2 separate regions of the Homo sapiens genome follow, and region 2 is linked to region 1. A link means that fine-mapping ties the variant in region 1 to the expression of a gene that starts in the linked region. Tissue or cell type: whole blood. Region 1 holds a variant in brackets; the other region holds the start of a gene. All regions are shown on one strand. Distances are from middle to middle.

Evidence for each region. PIP is the estimated chance that this variant, and not a neighbour inherited with it, causes the effect.
Region 2: NIN starts here. The variant in region 1 is fine-mapped to the expression of NIN in whole blood (TOPMed, PIP 0.95).

Annotation. Positions count from the first base shown.
Region 1 is chr14:50,734,658-50,742,969 of GRCh38, forward strand. NIN (ninein) reads right to left here. Exons shown (of 31, transcript NM_020921.4): 25 at 6,925-7,071; 26 at 4,651-4,830; 27 at 3,483-3,629; 28 at 859-960. Among named protein-coding and RNA genes, the nearest start is that of SAV1, 71 kb to the left of the region's middle. The variant A/T (reference allele first, on the strand shown) is at 4,770.
Region 2 is chr14:50,827,153-50,835,464 of GRCh38, forward strand. NIN (ninein) reads right to left here and starts at 4,010. Exons shown (of 31, transcript NM_020921.4): 1 at 3,854-4,010; 2 at 3,312-3,365. RefSeq lists an enhancer at 2,692-2,741 and silencers at 3,312-3,431, 3,452-3,501, 3,572-3,851, 3,902-4,351.

The DNA.
Region 1 (8,312 bases):
TAGTTTTACAAATCCATTTTTTTTCTTTTTCTTTCTTTTTGAGACAGGGTCTCTCACTGTCTCCCAAGCTGGAGTGCAGTGGTGTGATCTCAGCTCATTGCTACCTCCAACTCCTGTGCTTAAACAATCCTGTCTCAGCCTCTCAAGTAGCTGGGACTACAGGTACGTGCCACCACACCTGGCTAATTTTTGTATTTTTTTTTTTTTTTGTAGAGACAGGGTTTCGCCATGTTGCCCAGGCTGGTCTTGAACTTCTGGACTCAAGCCATTTGACTGCCTCAGCCTCCCAAAATGCTGGGATTACAGGTATAAGCCACCATGTCCGGCCACAAATACATTTTCATAGTGATCAGATGTACCTCTCACAAGGCAGTCCTGAGTTCTAAATGTAGTAATGAAGAATAGCAGCACTTGAAATTAAAACTTCCAAATGTTAATGCTCTCAAATTTCCCGCATGGATTTCCCAACTGAAGAGGGTGCTAGAGATCAATCATGTCTATAAAATGCTGCAATATAGGAGGGATCAGTGAACTGGTATAAACATGGTGATGGCAAGAGTGCTCAGGGCCCCTTGGCTAATCAGAGAGTCCCTGCCCCCTGAATTTGCAGAGGTACAGGTCTTTGCATTTTAGGTCATCATTATTACTTACTCTGAAAAGCAGTATGGCTTCCTATGGCAGTATAATGAAGCAAAGTTGTCTGTTAAACTTGGTAAGGCGGACCAAAGAATTCAACTTGGCAGTGTACTTAGATTTTCACAACGGGAATTCAATGCCATGTCTAGTCTCTCCCAACAAATACCTCATTCATGGATTAACATATTCTTCATAGCTAAGGCCATCTGCTGAGAAACTTACCTCCATGAGCTGCTCATCCAGTTTTACTTGTTTCTTTTTCAGGCCTTCATTTTCCAAATGAATTGTTTCTAATTCTTGTTCAAGGGAATTCATCTGACTGACCTGTTTAAAAAAAACAAAATATTCCCTTGAAACAGAAACAAAAACACTTGAGTTGTTCTACTTTATTTTGACAAATCTGTGCTTGTCAGAAATCTCAACTCTTGGAAGAAAGCCAAGTTAATTCAGTGACAAACAAATAATACAATTCAGTGTATTGCTTACATTTAAGTAATCTAGTTTTAATCACCTGTCCTCACACAGAATAGATTCCTTAAGGCAGCTGGCTTTTAAACTTGGATGCCACCCACTGTAAGAAATACGTTTTATCTTACAACGCAGTACACACACCCACACATATGTACAGTACATATCACTGAAATATCCTTACCATGGACCATGTACTCTGATATTTTGTAGTATATTAATAAAAAATGCTGGTTTCCATTAAATTGATTTCATTATCCTCTACTATGGATCTGCAGCAGGAAAAATACTGTCTTAATGCAAACTTAAAGGCTTAAAATTGAGAGTACATAAAACCTGATTTATATAACTTTTTAATTTTAAAGATTTCGTGAGTACCTTTTTTTTTTGAGACAGAGTCTCACTCTGTCACCCAGGCTGGAGTGCAGTGGCACAGTCTCAGCTCACTGCAACCTGCGCTTCCCAGGTTCAAGCGATTCACCTGCCTCAGCTTCCCAAATAGCTGGGACTACAGGTGTGCACCACTGCACCCAGCTAGTTTTTGTATATTTTTTTTTTTTAGAGATGGGATTTCACCATGTTGATGAGACTGGTCTCGAACTCCTGACCTCGTGATCTGCCCACCTCGGCCTCCCAAAGTGCTGGGATTACAGGCATGAGCCACCGCGTCCAGCCTCACTTTTATAACTCTTTACTACAGGAAGAACCTAGTGAGCTAGAGGACACCGAGTCAGAATATTGCTCAGTAAAAAACATACAACACTATCTTAGAAAGCTGATTTTGCTTCTATCAAAAAGAGCTGAGGAGAACAGCAAGAATTGTGAAACAGAAGTGTAGTCTTCCAGGTCCATTTTAAACTTCAGTATTATTAAAAGCCTATCACAGACTTTTCTCCCCCTAATGAGCAGCTAAATGAAACCCATTTTCTTTCTGCAAAGTTTACTTGAATGTACCTGAAATTAAATGACATTTCAGCTTTAGAGCACAACCAGGTCTTCTTACTGCAAATGGTCATGATAACTTTCACAAAAAACAAAAATTTTATGAATATTTTATAATGAAATATTTTTCTCAGATTTCTAAACAGACCATATTTTTTATAAAGAGGTAATAGTGAAAACTGAGTTTCAGTTTAGAAAAAGAAAAGTAACAACTCTGAGAAGTCTGGTCTAGAACTCTAACTTCATGGGACAAATTACAGAAAGCAAACTGATTGGCACTGCAGAGGTGTGACCAGGGGGTAGCCAGCCTCCAAGAGGCCTCAAAGAGCCCCACCTCCGGGTATTCACACCCTTATACAGTCCTCTCCCACACTATACTAGGGTTAGTCTGCGTGACAAATACAGTGCAGCAGAAATGTTGGTATGTCACTCGCAGGATTAGATCATAAAGGGACCACAGCTTCTGTCTTGGTCTTTCGGTCTCAGTGTCTGTTTCATCACTCCTTCTGGGGGAAGCCAGATGCTACACCCTGAGAAAAGGCCCAGGTAGTGAAGAGCTGAGGTCTCAGGCAAGCAGCCAGCAAGGAACAGCAGCCTCTTGCTAACAGTTGTACAAATGAGCTTGTAAAGTAGATCCTCTAGCCCCAGTGAAGCGTTCGGGTAACTGCAGGCCTGGCCAACATGTAGACTGCATCCTCATGAGAGCCCTGAGTTGGACCACCCAGCTAAGCTGCTTCTGAAATCCTGACTTGCAGATAAGACAAGAAATGTTGTTTTAATTTGTTACATAGCAAAAAAAAAAAAAAAAAAAAAAAAAGCCCATATTAAGATGTTTCTAATATTCGAGTGATAAATATTTTGCCAACTTATAAGGGCTTCTAATACTAATAAAGATGATTAATTGCCTTCTTTAAGAAGCTTAAATTGTGGTTTTTTGTTGTTGTTTTTTTTTTTTTTTTTTAAACAGAGTCTCACTCTGTTACCCAGGCTGGAGTACACTGTGTGATCTTAGCTCACTGCAACCTCCGCCTCCTGGGTTCCAGCAATTCTCCTGCCTCAGCCTCCCAAGTAGCTGGGACTATAGGCATGTGCCACCATGCCTGGCTAATTTTTGTGTTTTTTTAGTAGAGATGGAGTTTTACCGTATTGGTCAGGCTGGTCTCAAACTCCTGACTTGGTGATCTGCCTGCATCGGCCTCCCAAAGTGCTGGGATTACAGGCATGAGCCACCACACCCGGCCAAACTGTTATTTTTTCAACCATTATTCAATCAAAAAGAACCACGATGCTATTTTGACAAGATAACAGCATAAAGAGATACATGCCAAAATATGCCATCGTAATCATTTCCTTAGAAGTACACCTGAGAAGAAACACACTTAAGAACGCATTATAGTGAGAACACAGATGTACGCCATATATTCTCAAAAACTCACCTTCCTGTTAGCAGGAGATTGTTCTTTCTGAAACTGATCACACTCTCTCTTTAAGCTCAATTTTTCTTGCTCTGTGGGATTCATGGTACCTGATGGGTTTAGATGTTTTTGGTGCTTGGGAAGAAGATTGGATTCCAACTGACGGACCTAACAGGAACAAATGTAAGAGGAAAAAATGCTAATACAATCACCCAGCCAGCAAAAACAACAAACATAGGGAAAGTTTTAATTCAGTACTTGGGTCCTGTTTAACATCCTTTTTCAATCAAGCCTGTAAATACTTGAAGCTAGCTTTTCTGGATTTCAAAAGACCCTTTCTAGGTGAGTCTGGTTGGGTCTGCAAACCCAGGACTGTAGGAACAAGACTGGGAAGAGGGGACTTCTGGGTCTACTAACTCTCCAGGAGTCAACAGTGTATGTGATGTGGCTGCCAGGAAAACAGGCACAGTGGTCCCAGGCCCTTTTTTTCTGACATGAACACTACTTTTAGGAGAGAATGGGCTGACAGTTCCCATCTGCTCTTATTGGACTATTCACATCTAAAACAGTTCTACGAAGACATGAACCATGTCTGTCTTGCTCACCACTGCAGCATCCGTGATAGCAGTTTCTGGCATGGAGTAGGTGTTCTAACTAAATATCTGCGACTCTTCAGAGTTCCTCCTCAAAAGGGGTGTTAAGCATAGGTTAAATATCATTGGGAGACTATGCAGCAGAGGTAAGGAATTCAAGCACCAAGTTGGTGGTTGGAAAAGACCTTAAACCTTGAAATGCTGTCTTTTAAAGGAGGCACCTTTTTCTCTCGTGAGGAGTTATTTAGACCTGCAAGATCTGAGTCTAGTTTTACCATTTTTGTACTACTAGTCTTGGTGGCCAGCCAATTTGAAGACTATATGGTTCACATAATTTCCATGAGTCTATATTTTGGATATGAAGATTAAAGTCACAAATATATTTTAATATAAAACTGCTTATAAAAATATTTTATAAACATCAGGATAAAATTATATGTGAGTAAATGATAAATGATACATTCTTAAAATAAGTCTGCTATAGCAGGATACTCAAATCCATACCTTAGAACCATTCCAATCATATCCAACATTCATTTTCCTATCAAACTAGTCATTTTCAAACATATGCCATGATGTGCAGCTTCTCCAATTACCTTCTCCCGGGAGTGCGTGAGTTCGGCTTTGGTGTTCTGTACCATGGTCTGGAGCCTCTCATTCTCTTGCCAAAGCAGCTGCTGTTCCTCATTCATCAGATGATCCAACTTGTCCCAGG[A/T]CAGCCTTTTCTGCTGGTTATGGAGCCCTGATGGATGAGTAGCTATCTCTGGGGCCCAGCTCTTAAGAGAATTGCAGAGTGTAAGCCTTAAAAACAAGCTATTGGGTAATTGCTGTTTTGAGACAGGTGTCATGTTTACCCAATGACAACGACTCCTAATAAGTACCTTTCAATTGTCCCCTCAGTCTTCTAATGAAAGTATGTGTATGTACATATAAATATGAATAAAACAATATTCTTGAAGTTTGATTTAAACAAAAAGATTTGGAGAGTCTCTGTTTAAAATGGTCTTTGACAAAACAGCCATGCCATGTCCAATAATGAATATGACTGTAGGGCAAGGCCCAGTTCCATAAAGGACCCAAATGCATTGAGACTGGTGGCTTAAAAGTTGCTTCATTCTTACGAAGTTATCTTTAAGCCCAGAAGATATTCATTTGATTCACAGAGGACATAAAGAGAAGGCTGAAATGCACTGCCAACTCAAAAGCTTTCATAGGCTAAACTCTACTTTCATTTTCACATATGCAATCATATCCTTTTTTTAGAATCCAAAGCACATATTGTCCATGTAATTAACGTCTGAATTCAGAAATGTGCTTTCAGCTACCAAAGTGATTTTTTGGATCTTGAAAATGATTTAAAAAATTAAAAAGATAACACAAATAGATAAGCCTCTTACCTTTTAAACCAAACATGAAAAAAAAAAAGGTACAATCTCATTTTCAGAAAAAGTCAACCCAGAAGTAATTTTAAAAATGGAAACTTTTTTTTTTTTGAGACAGACTCTCACTCTGTCACCCAGGCTGAAGTGCAGTGGCACGATCTCAGCTCACTGCAACCTCCACCTCCCGGGCTCAAGCAATTCTTATGCCTCAGCCTTCCAAGTAGCTGGGATTATGGGCGCATGTACTACCACAGCTGGCTTTTTTTTTTTTTTGAGACAAAGTCTAGCTCTGTCGCCCAGGCTGGAGTGCAGTGGCACGATCTTGGCTCACTGCAACCTAGCCCTCCCGGGTTCAAGCGATTCTCCTGCCTTAGCCTCCCGAGTAGCTGGGATTACAGGCACTCGCCACCATGCCCAGCTAATTTTTTTTATTTTTAGTAGAGATGGGGTTTCAACATGTTGGGCAGGCTGGTCTTGAAGTCCTGACCTCGTGATCCGCCCGCCTAGGCCTCCCAAAGTGCTGGGATTACAAGCGTGAGCCACCATGCCTGGCCATTTTTGTATTTGTAGTAGAGACAGGGTTTCGCCATGTTGGCCAGGCTGGTCTTGAACTCCTGGCTTCAAGTGGTCTGCCTGCCTCGGCCTCCCAAAGCGCTGGGATTACAGGCATGAGCCACCACACCCAGCCCAAAACAACTAGTTTTTTTATAAAAAGTTTCACCAAGAGATAACTGAATGTGTCTACTTTTATTGTAGGACAAAATCTTGACATCTGCCCCAAAATGACATCTATAACATTGTTCTTAATTTATTTGCACACAGATTAGGCAGCACTGTGACTTATTAAAATGAGACACTTTCTACCACACCACCATAATGTGTCAGCCAGCTAACACTTTAATCAGCTCTTCCTGGACTTTCTGGTGCCATAGCAACCTATTTGTAGCAATGAATTATCTCCTGAAATTCAATACTATTGTTTTATGCCTTTTTAGCAGAAGCTGTACTTTTTTGCAAGTCTGTGTATAAGTTCCCAGATTAATTTCTTGCAATGTTTTTCTACATTTGATTTTTTTTAAGGTCACACAAATACTTTTCTCTACCATTTAAGAAAATGTTTTAGTTTTGTTATTACAAAACTCAACTCAGCCATGGTCTTCTGACTTGCTCAATACAAAAAAAAGACCTGTTTTATATCACTATGGTTTCATTTATATGAAATTTAGAAAAAAGCATCCCTAAACTACAGTGGCAGAGGGTACAAAAGTGGTTCCCTTGGGGTTACCAACTGGAGGGAACAAGAGAGAGCCTGCTGAGTGCTGGAAATGTTCTACATTTTTATCTAAGTGATGGTTATACAAACACAGATACATAAAATATGCATATTTATATGTACATACATATACACATAAAAATAACCAAGTTGTCCTAAGATTTGTATACTTTACTGTAAATAACTTATACCTAAATAAAAAAAGAACAAATCACCTTGCCACCAGCATTCTGAAGTTGCTTATGTAAAGACATCACTTCTTGTTTTAAAGCCTCCTTTTCCTGCTGAGTCACTCGTAGGTCAGATTTCATCCGGGACATTTGCAGGTTTACATTCTGCACGGTGTCTTCTAAATTCTGAACCTGTATTGTGAGAATGATCTTTTACTGCTACACAAACTCTTGTGGTCTCACCTCTAGCATGTTCAGGAATGAATAAGGACAAAAGAACTTTCAAGTCTGTTTGTTTCTCTTTACTAAATCCAGCTTTCTTGTCAGTAGCTCAGTGGAAACCTAGGACAGTAGGTATATTTACAGGATGTTAAATTATATTTAGGACAATGATGAACTATGTCTGGAGCAAGGTATTGCTGATAGTCATCTGGTAGATTACTAAATGGTATCTTACAATACCAATGGGTGCCAACTGGCATCACAAAAGATGGTTTCACTGAATTTTGTAGAAATTGTTTTAGCCTATGATGTTGGACTGTAAAGGACCCTCTTAGTTGCAAATAAAAATATATACTTGTAGAATCCTATTCTAGGCTAGGCATGGTGGCCCACACCAGGAATCCCAGTACTTTAGGAAGCCAAGGCAGGAGGATCGCTTGAGCCCAGGAGTTTCAAACTAGTCTAGGCAAGATGGCAAGACCCCCCATCTCTACCAAAAATAAAAAGCTGAGTGTGGTGGCGTGTGCCTGTAGTCCCAACTACCTGGAAGGCTGAGGTGGGAGAATCCTTTGAGCCCAGGAGTTTGAGGTGGCAGCAAGTGGTGATCCAGCCTGGGATACAAAGAAACCTCACCTTTTTTTTTTTTTTTTCTGGAGACAGAGTCTTGCTCTGTCGCCCAGGCTAGAGTGCAGTGGCACGATCTCGGCTCACTGCAACCTCCGCCTCCCAGGTTCACGCCATTCTCCTGCCTCAGCCTCCCCAGTAGCTGGGACTACAAGCACTTGCCACCGCGCTCGGCTAATTTTTTTGTATTTTTAGTAGAGACGGGGTTTCACTGTGTTAGCCAGGATGGTCTTGATCTCTTGACCTCGTGATCCGCCTGCCTCAGCCTCCCAAAGTGCTGGGATTACAGGCGTGAGTCACCGTGCCTGGCTAAGACCTCACCTCTTAAAGAAGAATCCTATTTTACGCTAATACCGCATATAAATTCCAATTTTAAAAATTTAAATTCATAAAGGGAATGTTGATATAGATCTTCAAAATAGGGCATAAACTGCCTTAGAAGTCCTATCTATAAATTAGGAACAAGCAGTCATTTTTATGCACTATTCTCAAGCCTTCATAATTAATAAACTTTGATGGAAATATTTAAATTATTTTGCTGCAATGTTTGAAATATTATTTAAATCATTTTGTCATACTATATTTAC
Region 2 (8,312 bases), 92 kb after region 1:
CTCACCATATTGGACTACTTTCAGTATAAAAGGAAAGAGTGACAAGGATAAATTCAAGTTTAGTAAAAGCTCAATAGAAAAAGCAGTTGCAGCCATTTACGAGTTTATATAGGAGAATACTTCCGCCAAAAACCAGTGCTGCTTAGCAGCAAACTGATTACTGTCAGAATGCCTCCTCTCTGCTCAGTGTCTCACTTCTAGCTGGATACCAAAAGCACAACAATATCACTGTGAATGAAATCATGATACAAAAATATAACACGAAAGCTTAAATGCACAGGAAGAAAGTCACATTAAATACATTTGAAAAAATGGCTGGGAGCGGGGGCTCATGCCTGTAATCATAGCACTTTGGGAGGCTGAGGCAGGTGGATCACAAGGTCAGGAGATCGGGGCCATCCTGGCTAACACGTTGAAACCCTGTCTCTACTAAAAATACAAAAAAAAAAAAAAAAATAGCTAGGTGTGGTGGCGCACACCTGTAATCCCAGCTACTCGGGAGGCTGAGGCAGAAGTGTTGCTTGAACCTGGGAGGCAGAGGTTGCAGTGTGCCGAGATCATGCCATTGCACTCCAGCCCAGGAGAGAGCGAGAGACTCCGTATCAAAAAAAAAAAAAAAAAGAAAGAAAAAGAAAAATAACAACCTTTGTCAACTACACTATAATATTTAACTAAGGGAATCCTATCAGCGTTTATTCGAAAATGTAAGCAACCTTTATTATTTTACTATCCTGAAGGATGTAATAAACCCATGCTTTTGTTCAACCTAATAACTGGTAGATTACCCAATCAAGTAGTTAACTCAGGTTAGCTACAGGAAAAAAAAAACAAAAAACAAAAAACACAACAACAAAAAAACGCCATTAGCCTGGCACAATGTGCATTCAGTAACCTGTAATCAACTACTAAGTAAATTACAGAAGCAGAAAACAGAGCTGCATGTTTGTTACAAAAAAAAAAAAAAAGGAGAAAGCTTATAACAACTTCCACTTCTTAAGCCATATTGACTCACATTAATTTAGGATGCCTGAGGCTATGAGTATGGTACCCTGAGGTGTAAGTGAAGGTGATCTTCTCTTCTCACGTCTATGAACAATATTTTCCCAACTTTGTTTTTAAAGTGAGAATTAGGGTATAGATAGATGCTTTGTAATTTTTCCATCCAAAAGCTTGAATAAATGGTTAATTGCTGACTTAAATTGCAATAAAGAAGTGTCCTAATTTCAAACAAGGATGCTCACTTTCAGAATCTCATAATCTTTTCAAAATTCTATTTTATTCATAAATAGGATAAAAATCTTTTTGCAAGCTTCACTAAGTCTCTCCATAAGCCCCTGCCCAACAGATGCAAGTTCAATAGCTAGAATTCAAACCAGATAATTTATTGGCTTACAAATGAATTGGCATCTATAAAAATAAGCCTTCTAAAAAGGCTTCACGCTGTTTAAATCCTTCTAAAATGCTCTGGCTAAGCTTGCCCACCCTTTATCAATGTAAGACTGATAAAATGCATTTTCATTATCAACATAAAATGGAAGCATCAAGATAGTTGAAATGTTAGTTTAGAAAGTCATTTGCAGTGACATTTAAAACAATTTATTTGAACATTTGACTCATGATAAGAATACTGCCTATTACATTAAGATTGGCTGTTCAGAATTCACTGGAGCCCTATTCTCCCCCTCTGTGACAGTTAACATCTTTTGATATTAAGGGTCATTACACATCTAAAATGAAAAAGAAATAAGAAAAAAGAACCCCACGCCATTCTGAGCAAGTGCCTATTAAAATGACTGATCCTTGACATTTTAATGCAGACTGTATGATGGCTTCCTCTCTATTGCCCCCTGTGAAGCCTTTCCCTGTATTGGTAATAACTTTGCCGATGTCCAACCCTGTGGAACATTCATCCTACCTTTTCCCCACTCTGCAGAATGCTTCCCTCTAAAGAATCACCAGAGAACAGGGAAAATAAACAAATCTGCAAACAAATTCCCGGGCAGTTCACATCACCTCCCAAAGGACACTGACAATAGCTGAAGAGACCACAACACACAAACTCGTTTTTCAGCCAGCCTGTAATGTTCCTCCTATACACACTCTGGAAATCCTCAGCTCCCTTCAACTCCGGAGCAAGAGCCACCAATATTCCAGGTCAGCCACCTATATAATATGCTCACCACGAGAGAAGACTCAAGGTAAAATTAAACTGACAGAAAAAAGGAATTTTCCTTGTTAGATCATCAAGCCTCCGGAATCATGCAAACATGTGTGTATGTTATGGTGTTTACGGGGACCTAACTGAGAAACGTCGTGGTTCCAGGGGCTTCCCTCATGTGTCAGGATGGACTTTATCAGGATTCTCATCCTACAAAGCTACCATGTCAGTCACAAAAGACAACTACGCAATCTGTTTCGATGTAATAAATTCAGGAGTTGAGCTGTATGGCAAGCCCATCTTAGAAGTCCTCAACACCAGGAGAGGATCTGTCCTAGTTAGGAGCAGAAAGCAGATCTCATAATATCCAAGTTGTCTGGAAACATGATATATGGTAGGGCAGTCTTTCCAGCTCCCATTTTGTTGGTGCCTTCACCTCGGGTTGTCAGGGCTGGGGTTAGGGAAATTGCCTCTTTCCGTCTCTATCTCTTTTAACTTCGCAGCGAGAGCTGGAAGCAGTGACTGTTCCCATCACCTAGTGTCCTTCTGTCAGGGGCCGCTTCGGTAGCTACAGAAGCCTAGCCGCTGGAAGCTTCCTTCCCCGACACTCCATACCTCCATGCCACACCTTTTAGGCAATAACCAAATGTCATTTTGTTCTTTCCCCTTCTCCTGGGCATTATACTGGGAAACTGTTTACGCGCATCGACCCCGCACACCTCCAAAAATCTCCACTTTCCGGGCTCCAAGCAGCTCTCCGCTACTCAGACAGCCCAGGCTAACACCTCGGATTTCCCCATGCAGTTTCCTCTGCAGCGTCTCAATCACAAGGCTGTACGGGCGGCACATGCCAACGGAACCACCACCCCTTCTGCTCCCTCGGGGACTCAAGCCTGCTCTCGGTCAAAGCACAGAAGCGGCTTTCAGCTCCGGGCAGGCGGCCGGGGCGTCGGGGGTACTGGAAGTGCCCAAACCCAGCGGTGCTGCCGCGCGGGGAAGCGGAGGTGCGGCCGCAGGACAAGCGCGCCTCCCAAGTCCCTGGCCACCTGCGATGCGTCCTCAACTCGCCTGCCCATCGCCACTACCAGAAACCTCAGACAGCCCATTGTGTGGGCAGGCAGCGCGCTCCCCCGGCCCCGCCGCCCTCGCCTACCTTCTGTCGGTCTCTCCGGAGCGCCCGCACAGCCGGCAGCCCGCCTCCAGCGCTCTGCAAAGCGAAGGAGGACGCTTTGTTAGGGCTGGAGAAACGGGACAATACTTCGCAGCCGGCGCAGCGGTTCCGGGCGGGCGTCCTTCAAAAGGACGCGAATGGGGACCCGCGTGAGCGTCATTTCCATATGTAAGGGGCCAGCTCTTACAAAAGCGCGGCTCTCGGGGGCCGCGGGCTGCAGCGCGCATCCTCCCCGCCCCCGCCGGCCCGCCCCCGCCCGCGCAGCCCGCGCCTCCGGGACCGGCCCCTCCTCCCGCCTCCGAAGCAGCCCCGTCCCCGCCTCGTCCTCCCGCCCGGCCGCTGCTTCCTCCCGGCCCGCAGGGATTGCGCCCCGCTGGCCCCGGACCCCAAATGGGAAGCCCCCGAGTGATCCGGTGCCCAGTTCGCTCCGGGCTCTCAGGGCCTCGCCGACGGCGCGGGGGCAGCGCGAGGCCTCCGTGCACCCCCAGGCCGTGGGTCCGGGTCCCCGGGGTTGCGCCACTTACTGCGTCCCGGGGCTCAGGCGCCCGGCGCCGCCGCGGGAACCATGGCCGCTGGCGCACTCCGGGCTTGGCGGCGGCAGCGGGACGGCCGCGCCCAGCGCGCTCGGCTCCCGGCTCGGCCGCGGCCACCCGGAGCTCTGGACGCCGGGGAGGAAGGGCCGGGCCCGCGCGGGGAGGAGGAGTCAGGGCGACGCCGGCCCCGGCGCGGCTCCTCCTCTGCGGCCCGCGCGGCTCAGGCAGCGGAGGGAGGAGCGGGCGGCGCCGCCTGAGCCCTCGCAGACGCGCCCTCCCGCTCCGAGCGCCCGCCTCCGAGATCTGAAGTTAGAAACGCCGGGGCTCCGGGTGCGGGTGTAGGAGGCTGGCGCCCCGAGGTCGCCACCGAGCTGGGGCTGGCGCTGCCACCCTCGCCCCTTGCCTGTCCGCCTCCCTTTCTTTCCCAACACGCCTACACTCACCCGCACCGCGGACACTCGGGCCGCAGCGTCTTCGCGCAGAGGAAGGGCCCCCGCCTTCAGCAAGCGGGACTTTAAGGGGGTGATTTCCCAGCCCTCGGGTGTCGATTGGCCATCAACATTGGAAAGGGTGTTCAGGAGGCAGAAGGGCTGTAGAAGTGACTCGGAACCCTGTAGAGCGAGCGCGACCCTCCTGCCGGGTCTACACTGGCTTCCGCACCTGCCCACCACGTCCTCACAGGCTCCCGCCCCTGTGCAGCCTTCTCCGGGTGAAGCTAACCCTCGGTCGCAAGCCACACAGGACGAAAACTCCTTGGAGTTGGTGGTTCCCAGCCCAACAGTTGCTCGATATTAATCGCCTCCTACCTACTACCCCAGAGTCTGCGTTCTCACTCCCCCATCCCTACACTTCTGATCTCATTGCAGTCAAATAGGATCCCAAGTCCAGGCCATGGTTCTTTTTGAGCTGCAGGGTTAAATGTGTTGCCCTTGAAGGATCCGCCTGATGGATTACAACCCACAAGTCTGGTTATTTTAGCAGGAAACTGGTGATTCCTTTTCTACCGAGAAAGCAAGCAACAGACAAGAGGAAACCAGCATTCCTTGAGAATCCAGTGCGCTAGAAACTCGACAGAAATTATCTTATCTAATTCTCACATCACTCTTAGGAGGCAGACATTATTTTGCAGATGAGGAAAATGGATCTCCCAGAAGTCAAAGAGCTTCCTCAGGATCACACAGCAGGAACTCCACAGAACTGAGATTCAAAAGCAGATCACATATGTGGCAAAATTGCATAGAACTGAATATACACTCACAAATGAGAGCACGTGAAACTCATGAAATTTGAATAAGACATTTGGACTACACTAATGTCCATTTACTGATTGTAATATTGTTCTACAGTTATGCAAAATGTTACCATTGAGAAAAATTAAGTGAAGCGTCTATAGGGAATCTCTCTATTATTCCTTACAACTTCAAGCGAATTTACAGTTACCTCAAAAAATTTTTTTAAAAATTTTAAACATCTCAGTCTTATTCAAAAGCCCAGGCTCTCTTCTTTCAACACGGTATATAAGCGTGCCTGCAGAATAAGAGAGATTTATGCTCCTCTCTCCTTTTTAAACAGTCTTGAATAAGTACACATACACACACAAACACACACTCATACACTGTATGCATGGTTGTTCAGTCATCCAGTAATATGATACAACACACACACACACACACGCAGTTCATTAAGAGGATAGCTAACCTGTTACCAGAATACTTACATAGAGGTCATCTTGTAAGACAGACAATAATGCTCACTGGGCACTAAAACAGCCAACAGTCTTGGAAGGTAAGAATGAAGAGGTGTCTTTCTTGTTTCACCTAATCTCTGCCATGGAAGCCTCATCCTACTGGTTACCTCTCCAAGCATCGCTTTTTAACCTGCAAGAATCCTTAAGGATGATATTGATCATTAGTTTAAAACAGTGATTCCTGGGGGTCAGGGGATATTGGAAGTGGCATTCACTCCCTGTGCAGGAAGATCAGAATTGCTGGGGGTTGTGTAATTTGAAAAACACAAGATGCGCTTTCTTGAGAGGAGTAAGTGGGGTGGAGTTAGCCCTGGGACTGGGAACTGGGATCACCTCCAGCCTTGCTACAAAGGAGGGAAAGCATGGAGCATGGTTACCGCGTGGTGTGGGTTGGCAAGAGCAACTCTACCAAGAAAGATGATTTATTTAACACAATGGGCCTGCAGTTTGGTTTGCACTGAGCACATGGTTAGTCTTAGTCCAAACTGGAGTCATGGGAAAAAAAAGCAGAGACTTCCTTTAGAGCCCATTACTTGATCTTTTCTCTGTTAAACACAAAATAACAGCAGAAGTAGCAACCAGGCTCCAGTTCTACATTATAACCAATATAAGAGAGAAAAGAAGAAATGTAAATATTTATTCAGAGTTATCACCCTTTACAAACAAAACTTCACTCTTATCTGTTGCAGCTTATCTGACTCTGATTTTTACTCTCACTTTACAAAGAACCTTGTTCAAGGACCTAGGATCCTTGAAGTATTTGTACGTGAAGTTTTTGAAGGGTTTTCTGCCATATTTCACAGTACGGAACTGGCTTTCTCAGATGGTTAAAGCTCTAAAACGTTAACTAAAGAATAATCCAGGGAAGAGAAAGTTACTCTTTGTTTCTTTTCTTTCTTTTTATTTATTTATTTATTTATTTTTTGAGATGGAGTCTTACTGTGTCGCCCAGGCTGGAGTGCAGTGGTGCAATCTTGTCTCACTGAAACCTCCACCTCCTGGCCTCCTGCGTTCAAGCGATTCTTCTGACTCATCCTCCCAAGTAGCTGGGATTACAGATGTGCACAACCACATCTGGCTAATTTTTGAATTTTTAGTAGAGACAAGGTTTCACCATGTTGGTCAAGCTGGTCTTGAATTCCTGACCTCAAGTGATCCTGCCTCGGCCTCCCAAAGTGCTGGGATTACAGGCGTGAGCCACCACGCCTGGCCTACTCTTTGTTTCTTCTTGAAGTAATTTTGAAATTATCAGTTTAGAGTCAAGACGACAAATGAGAGAGAGAGAGAAAAAGAGAGAGAAAAAGTCAGGCTTTGTAAATTTCCTGGAACCTGAAAAGTTATTTTTTTTTTTCTTAGCCAAAAAAAGGCTCTAACCAAACATAGTCTACCCTCTCCCAACTCACAGTTGGGTATAAACTATTTTTTATTCACAGAATAGTCAAACAGCCTGTCACTCATGTAGCAACTCCTGGCTCCTTCTAAACTTCTTTAATCGATATCTTTCTTATTTCTGTGACCATTTGAACTCAGCAGGACAGTTTTCAGGCAAGTTGCAGAGCTGTGTCAAAGACAGCCAGATTGTTAAAGTAGATGATCAGTTATAGTTTGGCCCAGGAACTCACTCGGTGAAAGAAAGGGACATCAATGATCTCCCCAAGGCCCTAAGGAAAATGAATGAGGAAAGGAAAAAGGGAGAAATTTGAGTTCCAGACATACAAGTCAGGGACTTAAGAGTTCCAGCAGCAAAATGTTGGTGGTTAAGAACCCAGGAAGAAAGAGGAAAAGTATAGGAAAGGGAAGGGAAGGTGACAGAAGGCAAACTGATTTACACTTTTGCCCCTGGGGGACACCTATTAGAAATTAGGATTCTCTATTCATTTTCCTTATGAAGAAAATGAAAGAAGAGGAAACCAGGATTCCATACAATTTATTTTTTTAAAGTAAGCATTGATTGCCTACCCTGTGCCTAATACTGTCCTGAAAGTCACACAATGTTCAAAATAAACATCAGGCTGGGCATGGTGGCTCACACCTGTAATCCCAACATTTCTGGGGGCTAAGGTGGGTGGATGGCTTGAGCTCAGGAGTTCAAGACCAGCCTGGGCAACACAGTGAGACCCCCCTTCTCTACTCCTCTTTTTTTATTAGCCAGGCTGGGTAGCACGTGCCTCTGGTCCCAACTTCTCAGGAGACTGACATAGGAGCATCGATTGAGCCCAGGAGGTCAAGGCTGCAGTGAACAACGATTACACCACTGCACTTTAGCCTGGTGACAGAGTGAGAACCTGTCTCAAACAAAACAAAATGAAGTAACAATCAACCTTGGTTCTTACCCTTGAGGAATGCATCATTCTCTTTTGGGAAGGTAAAAATATGCACTCATGAGACAGTAAAGGAGTGATGTTAGGTGGCATTGGACTCTAATTACATTCTCCAGTTGGGGGACATACACACGCTACAGCATGGGAAGAAGAGAGCAATGATTTCCCTAAAACGTGGCTTCCATTTGATCATTCTGACCATTGCTTTTCACTTCAGGTCCTAGATCTTTTTCCTGACATTCAAGGTCCTTCCTGATCAATGCAAAGGTATGTATCCTCAGTGTCTGCAGGAAACCTACCCTCCCTCCACTCTGCTCATGTGGACCTTCTAATCTTCCCTCTGCTGCTCTTTCAGCCCAGATCATCAGTCCTCATGTGTATT